Linked DNA regions of Homo sapiens: all the other regions are linked to region 3. The links come from fine-mapping of genetic effects on gene expression. A gene starts in region 3. Each other region holds a variant in brackets. All regions are shown on one strand. Distances are from middle to middle. Region 1 overlaps SARDH (sarcosine dehydrogenase). Region 2 overlaps SARDH (sarcosine dehydrogenase). Region 3 holds the start of DBH-AS1 (DBH antisense RNA 1).

What was found. PIP is the estimated chance that this variant, and not a neighbour inherited with it, causes the effect.
Region 1: its variant is fine-mapped to the expression of DBH-AS1 in whole blood (INTERVAL, PIP 0.98).
Region 2: its variant is fine-mapped to the expression of DBH-AS1 in whole blood (INTERVAL, PIP 0.92).

Annotation. Positions count from the first base shown.
Region 1 is chr9:133,701,413-133,707,349 of GRCh38, reverse strand. SARDH (sarcosine dehydrogenase) reads left to right here. Exons shown (of 21, transcript NM_001134707.2): 12 at 2,319-2,402; 13 at 4,321-4,434. Among named protein-coding and RNA genes, the nearest start is that of SARDH, 34 kb to the left of the region's middle. The variant A/G (reference allele first, on the strand shown) is at 2,467.
Region 2 is chr9:133,679,010-133,684,946 of GRCh38, reverse strand. All of the region lies in intron 17 of SARDH (sarcosine dehydrogenase), which reads left to right. Among named protein-coding and RNA genes, the nearest start is that of DBH-AS1, 25 kb to the right of the region's middle. The variant A/G (reference allele first, on the strand shown) is at 3,475.
Region 3 is chr9:133,654,181-133,660,117 of GRCh38, reverse strand. It overlaps DBH-AS1 (DBH antisense RNA 1), which reads left to right and starts at 2,710. Exons shown (of 2, transcript NR_102735.1): 1 at 2,710-2,991; 2 at 3,581-5,531. It overlaps DBH (dopamine beta-hydroxylase), which reads right to left. Exons shown (of 12, transcript NM_000787.4): 10 at 3,468-3,595; 11 at 2,889-3,048; 12 at 789-1,802. The coding sequence ends at 1,671. It also overlaps a transcript of SARDH not described here. RefSeq lists an enhancer at 4,836-5,635.

The DNA of each region.
Region 1 (5,937 bases), 47 kb before region 3:
CTGTAATCAGTAATCACGCCCTTGCCAGTCCTGACAGTTCAGAAGCCTCCCTGGGTGAATGCAGGGTTTGCTCCTCTCGCAGTCAGCTCAGACGCATTCCTCAGAACTGAGCAGCTCTACCGAAGAAACTTGGCAAGGGCTGAAGCACGCCCCTGCCCCCCAGGGAAATCTTGGTTCACCCACGCCTCGACTTCCCTTCCTAGTTAGCAGCCTTCTTGCGACACTTGACAGCCGCTTAAGTTTGTTCTCTTTCTTTCTTTTATAAAGAGGGGAGCCTGCCCTCTTTTAATGGGCTCTTGAGATGAACAGTTTGCCTCCTTAGAAAGGTGGCCCATGGGATGTCCCCATGGTTCACTGAGAGGTGGGTGGATTTTGTGCCCTCGATTGCCATCCCCTCAGAATCCCAGGCAGGCAGGGAGGACATGTCCATGTCATTGATGAATGCTGTGGCCTTGGGCGTGCCTCCTCCTTCTTGGGGCCTCGGGGGTGGAGGGGAGGGCAAGTGCTGTTGGGACAGACCCTCAGCGGGCCATCTGGAACCAGATGCTGCCCCCGAGGCCCTCTCAGCCCTGCGCTCGGGGCCTCGTTCCAGTCAGAGGGGGTGGCCCCTGGGTAGGGCCCTTCCAAACCCGAGAGTGGGTTTTCTTTTTTTTCCCAAACCAAATTTATTTTTAAAGAAACCTCCCACTCTGTTTCTCTAGTGTGTTCATTACATTCGTTGTTGTGATTAAGTAGGCAGATCTTAAAATGAGCTATTTTAACTGCTCTAAAGTGTACAATTCAGTGGCATTAAGTGCCTTTGCAGTGCTGTGCAACCGTTCCCATTACCCAGTTCCAGAACATTCTCATCACCCCACAGGGAAACACCATCCCCAGTAAACAGCCCTTCCTCATCTCCTCCCACCAGCCTTGGCAACCACTAAGCTGTTTCGGTCTCTATGGATTTGCCTGTTCAGGTCACTTCATATGCTGGAATCATCCAATACATGACCTTTTGTGTCTGGCTTCATTCCTGTAGCATGTTTTCAAGGTTCATCCTGTGATAAAATGTGTCCAAATTTCGTTGCTTTTTATGGCTGAATAATATTCCATGGTGTATGCAGACCATGCTTTGTTGATCCACTCATCAGCTGAGGGCCACGGGGGTTCTCTCCCCTGGTTAGTGGTTGCGCATAGAGCTCAGTGAACATGCGTGAACGGAATTTGTTTACAACCCCGCTCTCAGTTCTCTTGTGCATACTTGGGAGTGGAATTGCTGGGTCGTATGGTGCATCTTTCTGCTAGGGCAGCCACAGCAAAAGGCCACAAGTGGAGAGGTTTCAGCAGAACTTTTTTTTCCCCACATTTCTGGAGACTGGGAGGTCCAAGATCAAGGTGTCAGACGATGGGTTCCTGGAGAGGGCTCTCCTGGCTTGTAGTCGGCCACCTTCTCACTGTCCTCATGCAGCGGGGAGAGGGCCCTGGCGTCGCTTCCTCCTCCTATAAGGGCTCCAGCCGTATGGGATTAGGACCCACCCTGATGACCTCATTTAACCTAAAGATCCCATCTCCAAATAGAGTCACGTCAGGGTCAGGGCTTTGACATACGAATTTATGTGGGGATGTGATTCCGTCCATAGCAGATGGTAATTCTACAGATGGGGGTTCTCAGGGCCAAGGCAGATCAGGGCAGGTGGTAATTCTACAGATGATGGTTATCGGGGCCAGGGCAGATGGGGCAGGTGCTATTCTGTAGCTGGGGGTTCTCAGGATGAGGGCAGATAGGGGAAGGTGATAATTCTACAGATGGGGTTCTCAGGGTGAGGGCAGATGGGGCAGGCGGTAAGTCTATAGATGGGATTCCTGGGGCAAGAGCAGATCAGGGCAGGTGGTAATTCTATAGATGGGGGTTCTCAGGGTGAGGGCAGATGGGGCAGGTGGTAATTAATTCTATAGATGGGGGTTCTCAGGGTGAGGGCAGATGGGGCAGGTGGTAATTAATTCTATAGATGGGGGTTCTCAGGGTGAGGGCAGATGGGGCAGGTGGTAATTCTATAGATGGGGGTTCTCAGGGTGAGGGCAGATGGGGCAGGTGGTAATTCTATAGATGGGGGTTCTCAGGGTGAGGGCAGATGGGGCAGGTGGTAATTCTACACATAGGGGTTCTCAGGGTGAGGCAGTGAGGGTAGCTGCAAACACTGGGCTGGAGGCCTGGTTCCAAGAGTCAGGGCCTCCTTGCTCTCCGCACCCTTGGGTGTAAAGTGGCGGATGTGGCTCTCTGCCCTGCGCAGGGGTATCAGGCCATGCGTGACAGATGCCTGTTCCCCACTCCTGCTCAGGAACTCCTTGGACAAGGCTGCGTGTTCCAGGAGCGGCATGGCTGGGAGCGACCGGGATGGTTTCATCCCCGAGGCCCAGCTCCGGTGAGTAGTGCCTGCTGGGCTGTGCTGCTGGGAGGCCCTGCCCTGACAACCCCCTTGCCCCTCC[A/G]CGTGCCCCGTCCTTGCCCCTCCGTGTGCCCCGCCTCCCCAGGTGGTTCCACTGTCGTGATCAGTTATTCTGCACACGGGAAGCCGAGCCCTGCCGACCTGCCCCCAAGGCTCAGTGCATTCTTTGTGCCGTTCACGCAATTCCCACTCCTCGTCCTCCCCACTACCCGTCCGCTGTGGCCAGGCCTTCCATGGCCTAAGTGGGAAGGGCTGTAGGCAGAGCAGAAGGGGTGTCCTGCGGTGGGGAGACAGCAAGAAGACTCCCCCAGGTTGCAGGAGGAATGGAGCGTCTCCTAATTCTGTGCATCTATTTTTGGCCACTCCGACTGTTGGTTTATGTCCGTAGGAGGGCAGGCACTGGGCAGGTTGATGCACCCAGGGTGCTCAGTTTCCCAGTGGAGGTTTCACAGTGGCCTGGACTCTGGGCGTCCTCTGGGGACTCCCAGGGACCTGGGTCCTCAGTGAGAGGAACAAAGGCAGTCCTGCTGTGAAACCTGGGACCCAGACCCTCGGGAGCAGGGGACGCGAGGCCTTAAGGCCAGCTGAGGGGTAGCATTTGATCCAGATTTACAGAAATCGAAATCCCCTTCCCGGGGCTGCGTCTCACCAGTCCCCTCTGGTGCACCCACCTTCCATCCCCATGGCAACCCACAGCCCAGGCCAGGCTCCAGAGCTCCAGGGCATCGGGAGGGGAGATGAGAGCCAGAGCTGGCTAACGGGGCCACGGCTCTGGGGTCAGAGCCTTGCAGGTCATCGTCTCTTCTCCTGCTGGCCCCTAGGGACATGCCGTCCTCATGAACCCTGCGGGGAGGAGGGGTCTGGGCAGACCCTGTCTTGAAGTGCAACCCACTGTGTTCCAGTCAGATCTGGCCCTGGAAGCCCCTCTCCCCTGTCCCTGGGCGAGGAGAGGAGAGTCAGGAACACACCCCAGGTCCCAAGATGGGCGGATTTTGCACCCCCACCCGGGAGCCAGCCTGGGTGTCCAGGACACCTTGGCAGGGCTGCAGTGGGTGGGATGTCCCTGCTGGGGAGGGGGGTACTCCATGCAGAGATGCCAGCAAAGCCTGACTCCCTTACAACCTCACACTGGCTCCCACTTGTGTGTGAAGAGGAGGTGAGGCTTGGGCGGACGGGGCTGGCAGCCCTGGGAGGTTAAGAATTGCCCACACCTGCATTCACAGCTGTGCCGTGTCGGCAGTTAGGAGGGCAGGTGGCGGGGTGGGGGGTTGTCTGCAGGAGCAGCGGCCAGGGAGGGGCATGGGGCTGTGGGGCTGTGGGGTGTCTGATGGGGGCAGATCCCAGGGAGGCCAAGGCAGTGGCAGAAAAGCTGGACTCTGGAGCCCACGCACCTGCCTGGCTTCGTGCCACTGCCAGGTCCAGGACTTGTCTGTGCCCTTGGGCGAGATATAACTTCTCTGCGCCTCACTTTCCTCATCTGTAGAAAGGGGCACACCTGGTAGGAGTGTAAGACGCTTCCCGCAGGGGCTGGCCCAGAGCAGGAGCTGGGCCTGGGATTGCCGTGGCTCCAGGGAGCAGCCCTGGCTGAGGTCCTGGGTAACCACCTCTCCCTGTCGTTCCCCACCTTGGGTGCATCCAGCTCCTCCTCCAGCCTCCTGGGCCCTGGCTGGGCTCTCAGACCCACCAGGCAACCCTGCGGCCTCCTTTGTGCCTCTGTTTTGCCTGGACCTCATGGGGGCCCCCTGCCCGCGTCCACAACACACGGGCACTCAGTGCAGGGCTCTCCGAGGGCAGGGCCAGGCCTGACCCCATCACAGCCTCAGCGGGACCCCGCTCTGGGGAGGGAAGCGGGGAGGGGCCAAAGAGGCAGGCTGAGGACCACGTCTTTTCTTCCCAGGTCCTCGAGTACGACTACTACGGGGCTTACGGGAGCCGCGCGCACGAGGACTACGCCTACCGCAGGCTGCTGGCAGACGAGTACACCTTCGCCTTCCCGCCCCACCACGACACGGTGCGTAGCTGGGGTCCACCGTGGGGGTCCGTCCTTCTGCCTGTCCCTCAGATAAGCCATTGCGCCGGCCCTCGGCTGGCCCTGCAGGGGCTCCCCTCCCCCAGGAGTCTCTTCGGGCTCTGCATTCACGCTTTTTTCGGCTGACTCCATTTTGAGGAGGAATCATGCGTTTTCCTCTCCCCCTCCTCCCTCTGTGCCGAGATTTTGCCAGCAGCCAGGCCTGAGCGGAAGTGGTGCTGCTGGGGATGGGGTGAGGTGGGGGCGGAGGCAACGGGCTGGGGCCCGGTGGGGCTGCACCGCTCTGAGCCTCCGCCTCCCGCTCTCCGGAGCTGCGCCGAGGCTGGCATGAGACGTGGTGGGGGAAGGGGGTCCTCCCTCCTGGAAGCCAGCGCAGAGTAGATCCAGGACAAGGGGGCCGCAGGCTCCTGGGCATCAGGCCCCGTATGGGCCCCTCCAAGGGACAAGCAGAGGGAACCAGAGCCGGGAGGGCCGTGGCCTGGAGCCTGCTTGCTGTTCCTCTGGCTCCAAAGTGGGCAGGCGAGGCTGCTCACACGGGGCAGCTGGCAGCCCGTCGCCCCTGCCTGGGGACCTGGCTCCCACGTGCAGGGGGTGGAGGTGAGGAGTCTTGGGGGTCTTCTCCCCCGCAGCAGCCTGCACCACACAGGGGCGTTCTCCCCCGCAGCTGTCCGGGAAGGAGCGAGGCCAGCGTCTGCCCTGGCCTGCCCAGTCGTGTTGTAAAGTGCTCACAGGTGGAGCACAGCTGTTGTCCCCGTGCCACCCCAGGGAGACGCGTGACACCTCACTGCGAATCTGACATAGGAGCAGAGCCAAGGCCTGAGCCCAGAGTCTCAGAGCCCAGGGACAGCTTAGGAGGCATCCACGAGGGGGTTCCTTCCTGGGGCCTCTAGGCCAGTCGCAAGTCCGGCTTGGGTAGGGTCTGACCCTGCGGTCGTCCGTTGCCTTGAAGGGCCCCGCTTGGGTTCATGCTGTGCTGTCAGTGCCTTGAGACTCTTCATGGTCTTTGAGCAAGGTCCCCACTGGGTCCCGCACTGGGTTCTGTAGCCAGTTCTGAAGGGAATAAACCGTTCATTTCCACCATCTCCCCGAAAGCTTGCTCTAGTGGTGGAACATCTGTTCAAGGCGTCGGAAGAGGGGGCTCCTGCAGGAAGGAGGAGGCGTGTGTGTCATGAAGCGCCGCAGCAGCAGGGCCGGCTCAGTGCCCGAGTCCCTTGTCGCTGCCTCCCAGGGAGTGCTCGGGGCTCCGTCTGGCACCTCCGCACCCACAGCTTCTAAAGCCTGTGGGACTCTGGCCCTCGAGGATGTGGGAGCTCGGGGGAGATGCCAACTTGGCTTTGTGGCTTCATCCGGCCTCCGCAAACGCGCCTGAAGCCGTCCTAAAGCACGAAACACGTGCTTGTTCTTGGCGCTGGCAGCTTCCCCGGCCTGCTAGAGGAGCCCAGCGCGGGAGGCTGCTGAGGGTTTTGGTTGGCAGCCCCGGTGGCA
Region 2 (5,937 bases), 25 kb before region 3:
GGACTCAGTCCCAGGGAAGGTGGCCTTGGCCTCACTGCCTGCATCGCCACCTATTGTATCCCCTCCTGAAAGGCGCGGGGCAGCCCTCCCGAGGCCAAGTGACCTCCTGGAAACGGGAGGGCCGAGCTCTGCTGAGCAGTAGCTGGCTCCGGAGAGCTCCGTGTGGCAGCCTCCCAGCTGCCATTGTGGGCGTGGGAGGAGGGGCTGCTGGGGTGGGAGCACAGCCAGTCCCCAAACAGCACCCCACATGTCCCCCACCAACTCTAGAAAGCCTGTATCCTGGGGGCCAGAGCCCGTCCCTTCTGAGATGGTGGTAGTGTCCGGAGCCAGCACTCCATGGGACCTGGCCCCAGGCAGGAGGCTCCCTCAGAGACCAGGATCGGGGCCCAGATTCTAGTTCTGGGCCAGCACGACCCTCTTCTGGGCTTTGTTTCCTTGTTGGAAAACAGGCATCTTGGCATCTGCTTTGACTTCTCGAGGCTGAGATGAGGATGGTAAACACAGCAGCCCCTGTTTGCCGAGGGCTTCCTGTGTGCCAGACACTGTTCCGAGAACATCACAGCACACTTTCCCATGTAATCCTCGCCATAGTGCGGGCGGCTCTGTTACAGGGTCTCCCAACCTCAGCACTACTGACGTTTGGAGGAGATCCTCTCTGCTGTGAGGGCCCTCCTGTGTGACACAGGTGTGTGGCCGCCTCCCTGGCTGCCGCCCACTAGGTGCCAGTGGCACCCACCGTCGTGACAGCCACAAGTGTGTTCAGACATGGCCAAGGGTCCGCTGGGGGCAGGATCGCCCATTGAGAACCTCAGTGCATGACCACCCTGCTTGTTTGCAGGGCTGTAAGCCATGTAGTGGCAGCGGGGGCCGGGCCTCCAGAGCCCTCCAGCGCTCATGCTGGAGGAGATGTCGCCCTGCATGACGGATGTTACCCAGATGGAGCTCAGAGAGGCTGGATGGGCCAGGCTGCTCAGGGCCGCCCGGCTAAAGAAACCCAGAAAGCCCCCGATATGTGTCAGTGACACGGATGTGGCCTTCAGGAGGGGGTGGGCGGGTGCACGGCCGCGTTTGGAGGCAGCTCCCTGTCTCTCCTTCCTGTATGTTCGTCTGGGGTTTGGGTGGGGAAATGCTAAGGAAGGTTGGGGAGGAGCGAGGTCCTGGCCTGCAGAGGGACTGGAGGTCCTGGGGGACAAATCTGGGTTCTGTTAGCAGATAAACAATCTGGCGATGACTGTCAGGGAGGAGGCGGCCAGAAACTAGGGAGATCCCAGCGGCTCTGCTCTCACCTCCCCTCTCCAGAGGCTGCACAGGGGCAGGAAGCAGGGCCGGCTGTGTCTAGCTTGCTTCCTGCCTCTGTGGTGCAAAGCTGCCTGCTGGGACCAGAGAGGGTGGGCACTCAGAGAGAGCAGCACAGCTGGATCCAGGCCACACGGCCTTCAGATGGCCCGACTCCAGCTCCAGCAGGCCGGGGTCCACGCAGCATCCAGCTTTGTCTGCAGCTGGGTTCTGGTTTGCAGAAGGGGAGGGGGGCTGCGGGTTCTCCCACCTTGCTGAGGCTTGGCATAGGTGCTGCTTCTGTCTGGTTTGGCTACAGGACGGGGAGACGACCAGGTGGGAACACGTCCCCTCCCATTTGAGGCCCAGCAGCCTTGCCCCCACCCGCACGGCCACTCCAGCAAGCTGCTGGGACTTGTTCTCAGACAGGCGGCTCCAGCTGCCTCCCCTCTCCTGGGGCTGGCCCTTTCCTGGCCCTGGCAGCCTCCCCAAGCCTAGGCAGTGGCTGCCTGGGTCAGCCTCTACCTGTGTGGCCTAGGAGCCAGGCCAGGCCAGGTGCTTGCTGAGCTGACCCAAAGGCTCTGCTTCCGGGATGACATCCCCCAGAGGAACAGGCCAGGCCAAACACAGCGTGGGGGGTGCAGGGGGTGCAGGGGCCGCCTCTCCCCACAGTCTCCTGCTCATTGGTGTAAAATCACTGGTGTTGTAAAAAGCACATCACGGCTGCATAAAATACTGCTCATTGCTCGGTTTCCAACCATCACTGCGCATGGGTTTCAGCACAGGGGCTGAGTGCAGACCTCGCTTCTAGCAGTTTCCAACCATCACTGCGCGTGGGTTTCAGCACAGGGGCTGAGTGCAGACCTCGCTTCTAGCAGTTTCCAACCATCACTGCGCGTGGGTTTCAGCACAGGGGCTGAGTGCAGACCTCGCTTCTAGCAGTTTCCAACCATCACTGCGCATGGGTTTCAGCACAGGGGCTGAGTGCAGACCTCGCTTCTAGCAGTTTCCAACCATCACTGCGCGTGGGTTTCAGCACAGGGGCTGAGTGCAGACCTCACTTCTACCAAGCCCACTTTGGGCACGACCCTTGCCCCCTCAGAACAAGGATGCTGGGTCTGTGGGCAGGTCTCGTGAGCTGCGGCACGAAGCTCATCTGGCTGGGACATGGTGGTCAGCGGCATCTCAGAGGACCGTTGGGGACATTCATAGCCTGCCAATGAGTTAGCGAAAACCCCTCTAATCCCATCCCAGAGAAACCAGGGTTGACAGTTGAGTGTGTTGCCCGCCATCTTCTTTCCGTCATCTGTGACTATCTGTGGATTTTAAAATGTAATCAGGGCATCCCATGCAGTCTGTACACACTGCTTTATTCTCCGAATGTCGTGACTGTTCCCCTGTTCCTTTGAACGTTCCCCGAGAACCACTTGGAACGCCCTCAGCTGCGTCTCCAGTGCCCTGCTCATGTGTTTCACACCGGGTCCACCTCTCTGCTTTGGAAGTGGCCCCGGGAGGAACTTCCCTTGAACACCGTCCTCCCAGTAGATGCTGACTGTTGGTCTGAGAGAGGGTAGAGCTGGGCCCACCAGGTCGGAGGTATGTGCGGTTCATGGTCCCGGGTCACTCTGTGGTGTGTTCTTCTCTGTCCTTCCGTATTTCTGCGCCCCTCGCTTGCCCAGTGCTACCCTAGGTCTCAGGCGGAGTGGGAGAGAAGCACAATGCTTTCTAGGCTGGGGTCCCTGCGTGTGGGATGGGGGGGAGGGGAAACACAGGGGAGGTGGGACATGAGCGTCAACTGGCGTGCGCGATCGTGGGGACACAGGAAATAGGCGGCGGGGAGGTGCTACACGCATAAGGAGGCCCAGCTGCTGGGAAACACGCCGCGCACCGGCCGTGGCAGTTATCCATGGTGTACCTCCCAGCACCGTCAGCTCACGTAGGGCCACTGGGACTCTCAGTCAAGCACTAGTGTTTTACTAAACTTAACGATCCGTTCCCAGTGCTGTGCTTCTCGTCCTCTCCCTCACTAGCGCTCGAGAGACTCTGGAGTGAACTCTGGACATGCTGCCTGGGAGCCTGCTGGGTGCTGGATTGGGGTCCCAGGATGGAAGATGTGGCTCCTTCCCTCGATGGGCTCAGACCCCGAGTGAGGTTGGGGCCCAGGAAGGGACCTGCAGCCACAGCCCAGCCTGTACTGGA[A/G]AGAGGTCCTAGGCAGGGTGAGGGGTGACCCCAGGCCAACGGGTTCTCATGGAACCGAGAGTCCCGCAAAGATGGCCACAGAGAACTGAGTGTTGGCAAGAACCAGACAGGGTGGGGCAAGGCCCCGAGTGTCTCGACCTCTTGGCTAGAAAAAAAGTGTGGCCCGTGTTGGGGGGCTCTGCCCTGGGACTGACCCCAGGGGCCTGTGGACGAGCCGGGAGCCCACATCAGCTGCCCCTGCTCTACCCACTACCCACCAGCATTCTCCCCATCCCTGTGGGCCCCATCCTGACACCTCCCAGCCCCCGTGGCAGGACCAGGGCGGCAGATGTCCCCGGTGCTGAGGGCAGGCTTCCATCCCCACACAGCCCCAGCCAGGAGCTCGTCTCTGCCGACAGCCAGTGGCCCAGGGCCCCACTCCTTAGGAAGACAGACGACCTTAGCGCACAGATTTACTGTCACCTGGGCTGAGTGGCCGGCTCTGTGGGGTCATTCCCATGCTCATGTTCTTGGAGTCCGTGGGGTCCATCGGGGACAGACTGGGGGTGAGCTGGGGCTAACCATCTTCACCTAGAGACCCTGATGCCCAGCACTGAGCGCAGCCCCACTGGCTTCTCGTCCCTCTCCCTCCTTGTCCTCCCGGCAGCTCTCTGGAGTGGCCAGTGTGGGCCTGGCGGCCAGGTCTGCGTGTGTCTGGAGTGGCCAGTGTGGGCCTGGCGGCCAGGTCTGCGTGTGTCTGGAGGACGACTGTGGCCCTCAGGAGCTTGAAGTTGCTGGGTGGCCGGTGGGTCCAGATCCCATGAGATGAGGCCGGGGACTCGAGGAGCGTGTGGAGGACGGAGCGGCCAGGAATCCTGTCCTCAGTGACCTCTGCCTCCTCTTGAGGGCCCTGGGGAGGTGTGGGCCAGGAGAGCAGAGGTTCTGGGCCCTTAGTGTCAATGTTACAGTTTTTGCTGACCTGGGAGGCTGTCCCTCAAAGTGGCCAGGGCCACGCGCTCCCAGGTGGCCCCAGCCTGGGACACAGTGCCCTCCCCATTTCCTGGCCAGCAAGACGGGTGGGGATACAGCCACTGGCCACGGCCAGCTCCCCCTGTAGGGGGCCTCACAGGCAGGTGGGAGATGGGAGTTGAGTCAGCCACAGACACTGGGGGGTTTGGGACCAAAGCATCCATGTTACCCAAGGCTCGGTGGAGCTCAGGCCAGAAGCCTGGCTTCCCATCCTGCCCGGTCCTTCTGCGGGTCGCCTCTCTGGGCCTCAGTGTCCCCACCTGTAGCACGGAGTCTAGCACAATGTCTAAAATTCTTTCCGGGCCTTTCCATAAGTCTGTCCAGACACTCTGGATTCTCTGAATCCAGGGAGAATTTCATATTCTCCTAAATAATATCTTGTGCTGGCTTAAAAATGTGTTGATGACATATCCCTCAACGTGAAGAAACGCTGGGCTGGAGCGTGGGCCTGAGCCAGGTATTTATAGGCGATCAGTTGGGTTCCAGCCAACCAGATGCAGGCGAGGAATGCGTGTGCCTGCGCAGTCAGCGGAACCTCTGGGTTGAAAGCAGTTGTGAGGGCCGATGAGGACAAGGGCCAGAGCTGCAGACCCGGGCCCCGGGTGCGAGAGCGGGCGCCTGCCGCTGCCCAAAGACCCTCCTCACCACCAGACGAATTGGGCGCGATTCCCAGCTGAGCACTGCTGCTGTTGTGCAGTGATTGTTCTCCGAGAGGCTGGGATCTGACCCAGGCTGCCACGATCCCTGGACTGCTAGAGGAGGAAGCAGGGTGGGGAGAAGTTATTGTCCGCTCAGCAGCCAGCAGACCAGCTGTCCTTGCTCCCCAAATATCTTGCCTCGAGGCCAGCAAGATTCCCCGTGGGTCAGTGCTCTCCCGGCGTGTCTCCCAGAGCTCCGCTCGGCCAGACACGGTGTTCCCAGGGCCCCTGCCGAGGACGGGCCCCGCCGCGAAGCAGCATGCTGGGCTGGGAGCACTCCGTGGGGCACGGTGATCAAGTGATTTTCTCTGAAAATTAATTTCAGCTCAAAAGGAAATTGAATCTCTTTTCCTGACAGCGAGAAGTCCTAGTCGCGGCGCTGTTAGGATTTGATTAGCTCAGGATGGAGCAGTCCTGCACCCACACACGTTAGATAACTATGACATGCCAGTCAGAGACCAGCTGAGTTCCAGCCACTGCCTAAACACTCGCTTTACAGAACCCGTGCAGATTTGCTGAGGCCTGAGACAGATACCCGATATCATGGGCAGGTTCCCTGATGCAGCACAGAGAGACTGGTGGCCGCAGGCTGGGGCACCGTGTTCCCTGTCACGGGTCGAGCTGTTGCCACGATAGTGTGAAGGGCCTGGGCCCCAAGGGGAAGTTGGAGCGAGGGTGTTTGTGGAGTGGGTGGTGGGAAGCTTCGACCCCCACCCGGGTTTGCTGCTTCTGTCTGGGGCAAGTGACCTCAGGCAGA
Region 3 (5,937 bases):
TGCAAGAGGAAGAGGATAACCAGCCTGAGAGCAAGAGTGTGAGTGGGGGGTGAGGTGGGGGTGGGGTTGTCGCTGTGGCAGGTTCCAGAGCTGGCTAGGATTCCCAATCACTGCCGCTCTTGGGCCCCAGGTGAGGTACTTATCTGGGAGTCTCAGTTTCCCTGCCCGAGATCGGCAGGCTACAAGTGCCCCCCAGGTGTTTGGGCAGGACCCTGGGACCCTTCTCTGGGCTGGCAATTGGGTGTGATCGCGGGAAGAGGCTTCTTGGGCCTGCTCCGTGTCTACTGTCACCTAGGCTGTAAAGATGACAGAGGGCCGGAGTGGCTCTCCAGGCTGGGGCCTGGCATTTCACAGCGCTAGCGCCGTGACTTATGGACCACAAGAAGCTGTGATTTATACAACGTGAGGCAGAGCTCCTGGGCTCGTGACTTCCCTTCTGTGATGAAGTGAAGTGCCTTGCAGAAGCAGCAGCCGCTTAGCTGATGCGAGGGGACTCCGAGGCCCATCCATCTCCCTCTCTCCCCATGAGGCTGGGCAGCGTTTTGCTGAAGTGGCTGAACACAAGTGCATCTGTTACTGTCTCCAGAAACCATCAAAGAGCTGAACTTGTCCCTGAGAGGCAGCTCAGAGGGCAGGAAGGGGAGACCCACCCAGGCCAGCTGAGGCAGCTTCAGGACGCTCAGGGGGAAGCACTTGGTACCACGCCTGGCACAGGGAGGAGGCTCAGGAGCAAGCTTCTCTCTCCTGGAGCGACGGCCCGGAGTGCAAACATACCCACCTCCAGTGGGTGCCAGCCCAAGTGTGAGCTTTATTGGCTCATTAGCCCGCACGGCATCAGCCTGGTTTTACAGATGAGAAAAGTGAGGGTCAGGAATGTGAAATGGCCCGCCCAAGGCACACTCCCTAAGTGGCAGAACCACGCGGAAAGCACAGCCCTGACTCCACCCCGGTCTGTTCAGCGCTGGCCCCACCGGCAGAGAAGCAAGCTGGTGCTAATAATTCCACCCCACGTGGAACCGGCGCCCAGAAGCCCCGCTGGATCTTTGCCGCCTCGTCTTTTGGTGATAGTTGTTGTCAGGGCTTCCCTTTAGGTGGGCGAAAATATCTGTTTACTCAGGAATGGAGCAATTTCCCAGGCGAGTCTCTAACTAGCTAAATGCCTGGTCCTGCCTCCGTCGCAGGGAAGCCGCCCACTGTGAAACACGAGCCACTCAGCAGGGAAATGTTTAAGCGGCACCCGCACCCGCTGCACACCGGGAGCAGCGGGGCGGGGGCGGGGGCGTTCCCGGTGATTCCACACCCCGGCCCAGCATGGTGCCTGTCCCAGAAGCCAGGCCACACCCAGTGAGGCGGAACAGGGCTGGCGGAGGGCTGGACCCTGGACCACTGTGCAGGCTGTCCCTGCACTGAGTCAGCCGGGTTTAAATGGACGAGGTCGTGGTCCACTCGGTCCAGGGTAGGTCAACAGGGCACCCACACCCTCTCAGCCATGCAGGGGACCCTGGGGGAAGAAGGCTGGATTGGACCGTGGTCTCAGGCAGGGGCGTGGTCTGGCCCCTTCATCCTGGGCGTGCAGGGCTGTTCCATGGGGATCGTCGCAGAGTAGAGTGCACAGTGCCGGTGTGAGCCCACAGGGACAGCATGGAGGAGGGGGAGGAGTAGGTCCCCCCTCAGCCTTTGCCCCCACCAATGCTGACAACGGTGGGGCCAGCAGGGCTTCGGCCCTGGCTGGTGGGGCACTGTGGGGTGGGCTCTTCCAGTGTGGAGATGACCTTGGGCAGGGGCTGCAGGTTCCATTCACCCTGCAAGGAAGGGGGCAGGAGGTAAACTGAGGCTGGAGGGGCAAGATGGGTGGCTGCTTCCCCAGCCACTTCCCAGCCACCTCTTGGATTCTTGCCCTCAAACTCAGCTTGTCTCAAACTGAACTCACTCTGCTCCCCCAAGTTGCTTTTTGGGGGTCCTCACCTCAGTAAATGCCCCCTCCCCTGGCTTCCCATTCACCTAGTCAGGAACCTGGGAGTCATCCAGGCCTCTCCCCGCCTCTGTCCCCACCCAATTTAATCATTCACCCTAGTGTAGCAACCAGAGCCCCTGGCTGCAGGCTCTGATATTTTTTAGCTATCTCTTCCCCTCAAGGCTACACCAAATGCCAAGTTTTCAACCCCATCAGACGTCCACCCCACACTATTCTCAGCAAGCCAGTATTAGCCCTTCCTTCCCTTGGTGCTGAGGATGTTTGACTTAGCAGTTAATCTGGCTCCCAAATGCTTCTGGGAAGGATCTTCCTGGATCTCCAGGCTGCGGCACCTTACGCGACTAACTCTGCATAGGCCCTGGCCTCCTGACCACAGCCCAGTGGGCCCAGGATAAATTAGATGCCTTCGAATACCAGTGGGTCTCAGATAAGGAGGAAAAAACCAGCTCGCAGCTTCAGACTGGTTCGTTTCTTACCTTCCCCTCCCCTGGTGCTTTATTTTTAGGCAGGTTAGTGCGCCCTGCTCACACCACCTGCATTTGGCATTCGGTACAGTGTGGAGGTGTCACCAGAGAGGGTGCCTGCCCTCCCTTCCTTGCCTCGTTATTGGTTCTCTCTCTCTCCCTCTCTCTCTCTCTCTCTCTCCTCTCTCTCTCCTCTCTCCCTCTCCCTCTCTCCCTCTCCCTCTCTCCTCTCTCTCCTCTCTCTCCTCTCTCTCCTCTCTCTCCTCTCTCCTCTCTCTCTGCTGGCTGGCTGGCTGTCTAGGCCTATGTGTCACCACCTGGCACTTGCTCTCATTGTCTTGTGCGAGTGCTTTTGCCAGCAGTTTGGAGTGCAGACCCATCACCCCTCACTGGGGCCCCCCATGAGGCCTGCCTGACTGCATGCCCCACCCGGGCCCATGGCAGCGCACCTGGAAGCGGACGGCTGAGGACTTGTTGCAGTGCATGGAGATGGGCGCGAAGCTGTACAGGGCCTTCAGTACGTCGCGGTTGAAGGAGTTCCAGGGAACAGAGGTGAACTGCTGAGACACGGACGCCTGAGGGCAGGTGCAGACATCCTCGTTGTTGAACCTGGTGGGGACAAGGAACAGCCAGGCTGGGGAGCAGCTGACGGGCAGGGAGCCCAGTGGGCACCAGCAACACCTCCCTGCAACTCGAGTCCTGTCCCTGGGGCAACCGTCCTGCCACCTCCTCCCCAGCCCCGCTGCCTCCGCCAGGCCACCCCAGATGCTGCCTTCACCGGCAACGGCCTCACCTCTCCTGTCACCTTGGCGGGTGGGTAATGGCTGCTGCAGGCTGGGTTGAGGAGGCTCTGAAGCCAAATCCAGACTCAGCAGGAAACGAGTGAGGGGAGGGGTGAGTGATGCCGCCACAGGTCTCTGCTCCTAGAACTTAGCCTGGACTCCTCCAATCTGCCCAGCCGCCTAACAGGCCCGAGGTTCTGTGTCGGGGTTCCCTGGGGGCAGGGAGCTTGTGCAGGGAGCCCTCACCTGTTGATGAGGTGGAAGTACTTCTGCAGGAAGCCGGCGTCCACAGCGCTCTTGCAGAGCTCCAGCTGCGTCTGGGGGTAGTAGTGCACGTAGTTGACACACATCTCCTCCAGGATCCCGAAGCCCCCCTGCAAGTTGGAGGAGACCCGTCAGCCCCGGGCCATGCCACGCAGACGCTGCCATCCAGCAGCTTTCGCCGCACCCACGTGTACACTGCGTCCACTCGTCTGTTCACTGCACCGTGCCAGGCATGCTCTGGGGAACCGAGTCCCTGCCCTCAAGGAATTGCCACCATTGGCAGGAGAGACAGGCAGTGAGTGAGTGAGTCAACCAGGAAATTCGTATCAGGTACTGATGATGCTGTGAGGAAAAATGAAACGGGACAAGCGGATGGGGTGTTATTGTGCCCATTTTATGGGTACAGAAACTGAGTCTCAGAGCAGGCAAGGGGATGCCCCGTGGTGGCCACAGCATCGGTGGCACAGCCTGAGTGCACCCAGCGTCCCGGCCATTGTCTGGAAGCTGTCCCCATGACCTCCAGCGAGAGCCTGGAGCCAAGGACTGCAAGGGAGGCCCTTTCCACTGCAGCCCCGCACCGTCCACCAGTCATTTCTCCAACGTGGCTCTGAGGGGAGCAGGGACTCTATAAGACAGGACCGTGACTAGAGGCCGCGACAACCTCCAGCCTCTCACGGCAACCCTACGGCCTGCCATCGCATGGGAGGGGCAGGGCAGGCACCCTCTGAGTCCCCACTGCCAGCTTTAAGCCCCTCGCTGGGTTGCTGCTCTTGGAGCTGGTGACCGTGGAGCCTCAGCCATAGGAGGAAGAACAGCAGCAGCTTGGAGGAGCTGGGGCTGGAGAGAGCAAAGCTCCCCCGGCAGCAGCTCAGATCCCAGCAGGTCAGGGGCCGGGACATGACGCCCTGGCCACCCTTGCCCCTCCAGGCTCCCCGCTGTTTGTGAAGCTGCTGTGGGCCTGGGGATTTCATCTGGCTGGTGGGGAAGAAAGGCAATCTTTACTCTATGGCAGAACAAAGGGACTGGGCAAAGCTTGGCGTGGCACTTACACCAGCTGCCGCCCCCTCCTCCCGTGCAGACAAAGAGCATGGGACAGTTCTGCCCAGAGACGAAACCTGGCACCTGTTGGCCAGGACGCGTTTTTGCCAGCATTGTTCTCTGGGCCGGATTCCTCCTTTCCCAGCTTTTCTCATCCATCCCGCCCCCGTCAGATCGGGACGATTGCCCTCCTGTGTGAGTTCCTGTCCCTCCCCACCCTCTGCCACCACAGACATCAAAAGGGAACTGAGTCCGACCCTGTGTAGAATCTGTTCTCCTCTTTCACCTGGGGAAGGAAATCGAATTTCAAAGGCCACTGTGTCTTGGATCAGCAGGCGAGGGCTTGTCAGAGTGTGAGAAGCTCAGGTCCACCTGGGGAGCTGCCCTCCCCTTTGATCCCACCTGGTGCTGTGATGTGGCCACTGCCAAGAGGACGACATGGGCCAGGGAAGCCACAGAACTGCCCACGGGGACGCTGGCACCGAGGGCCTCAACCTGCAGAACGGCCATCTGAGATGTCCGCGGTGCTCACCAGGCCTGGCAGCCCCGAACGCCCTGGGACGTGGCGTCAGTTCCGCCGCCGTGAAGCCAGATTGGGCAGGGAATATGCAGTCTCCTCGCTGGATGCCCGGCAAGACCCTCCCATCCCTGGCCCCGGGGCCGCGCCTGCAGAATGGGGCTGATGGTGGGGACTTGCCTGGGGTGCTCCACCTGCAGAGCCCTCTGTTTGCGAGCCCACTCAGTCACTGCACAGGTGCTTAGCCGAGAGGCGGCACAGTCGGGGTTGGCACCTGCACCCATACCAGCCCTGCCTCCTGTTCGCTGTGTGGCCTGAGTGGCTGGACCTCACTGTATCTCCTGGTGGGATTGCTCAGAGGTCTCAGCAAGGCTTGGTGTGGTTAGGATGAGTTATTAGAGCAGTGCTGAGCTGTGGCAAGCACCCGACATCAGCCACTGCTGTGATATACTGAGCACCTCCTCTAGAGAGAATAAAGGACTGACAAAGCTGTCCTGTCTCCACCCTGAGTTTGTGATCAGGAACCTAGGACACTTGTCACCTGAAATCCAAGGGAGACAGGAAGGGTGGGGTAACAGCTGTGAGGCACAAGACCCTGGGTCAAATCCCAGCTCAGCCATCTATCAGCTGTGTGACTTTGGTCAAGTGCCTGCCCTCTCTGAGCCTTTATGTCTCACCTGTGAAAATACAAACACTGGCTGGGTGCTATGGCTCATGCCTGTAATCCCAGCATGAGGGATTACATGAGGAGTTTGAGACCAGCCTGGCCAACATGGTGAAAATCCATCTCTACTAAAAATACAAAAATTAGCCAGGCGTGGTGGTGGGTGCCTGTAGTCCCAGCTATTCAGGAGGCTGAGGCAGGAGAATCGGTTGAACTCGGGAGGTGGAGGTTGC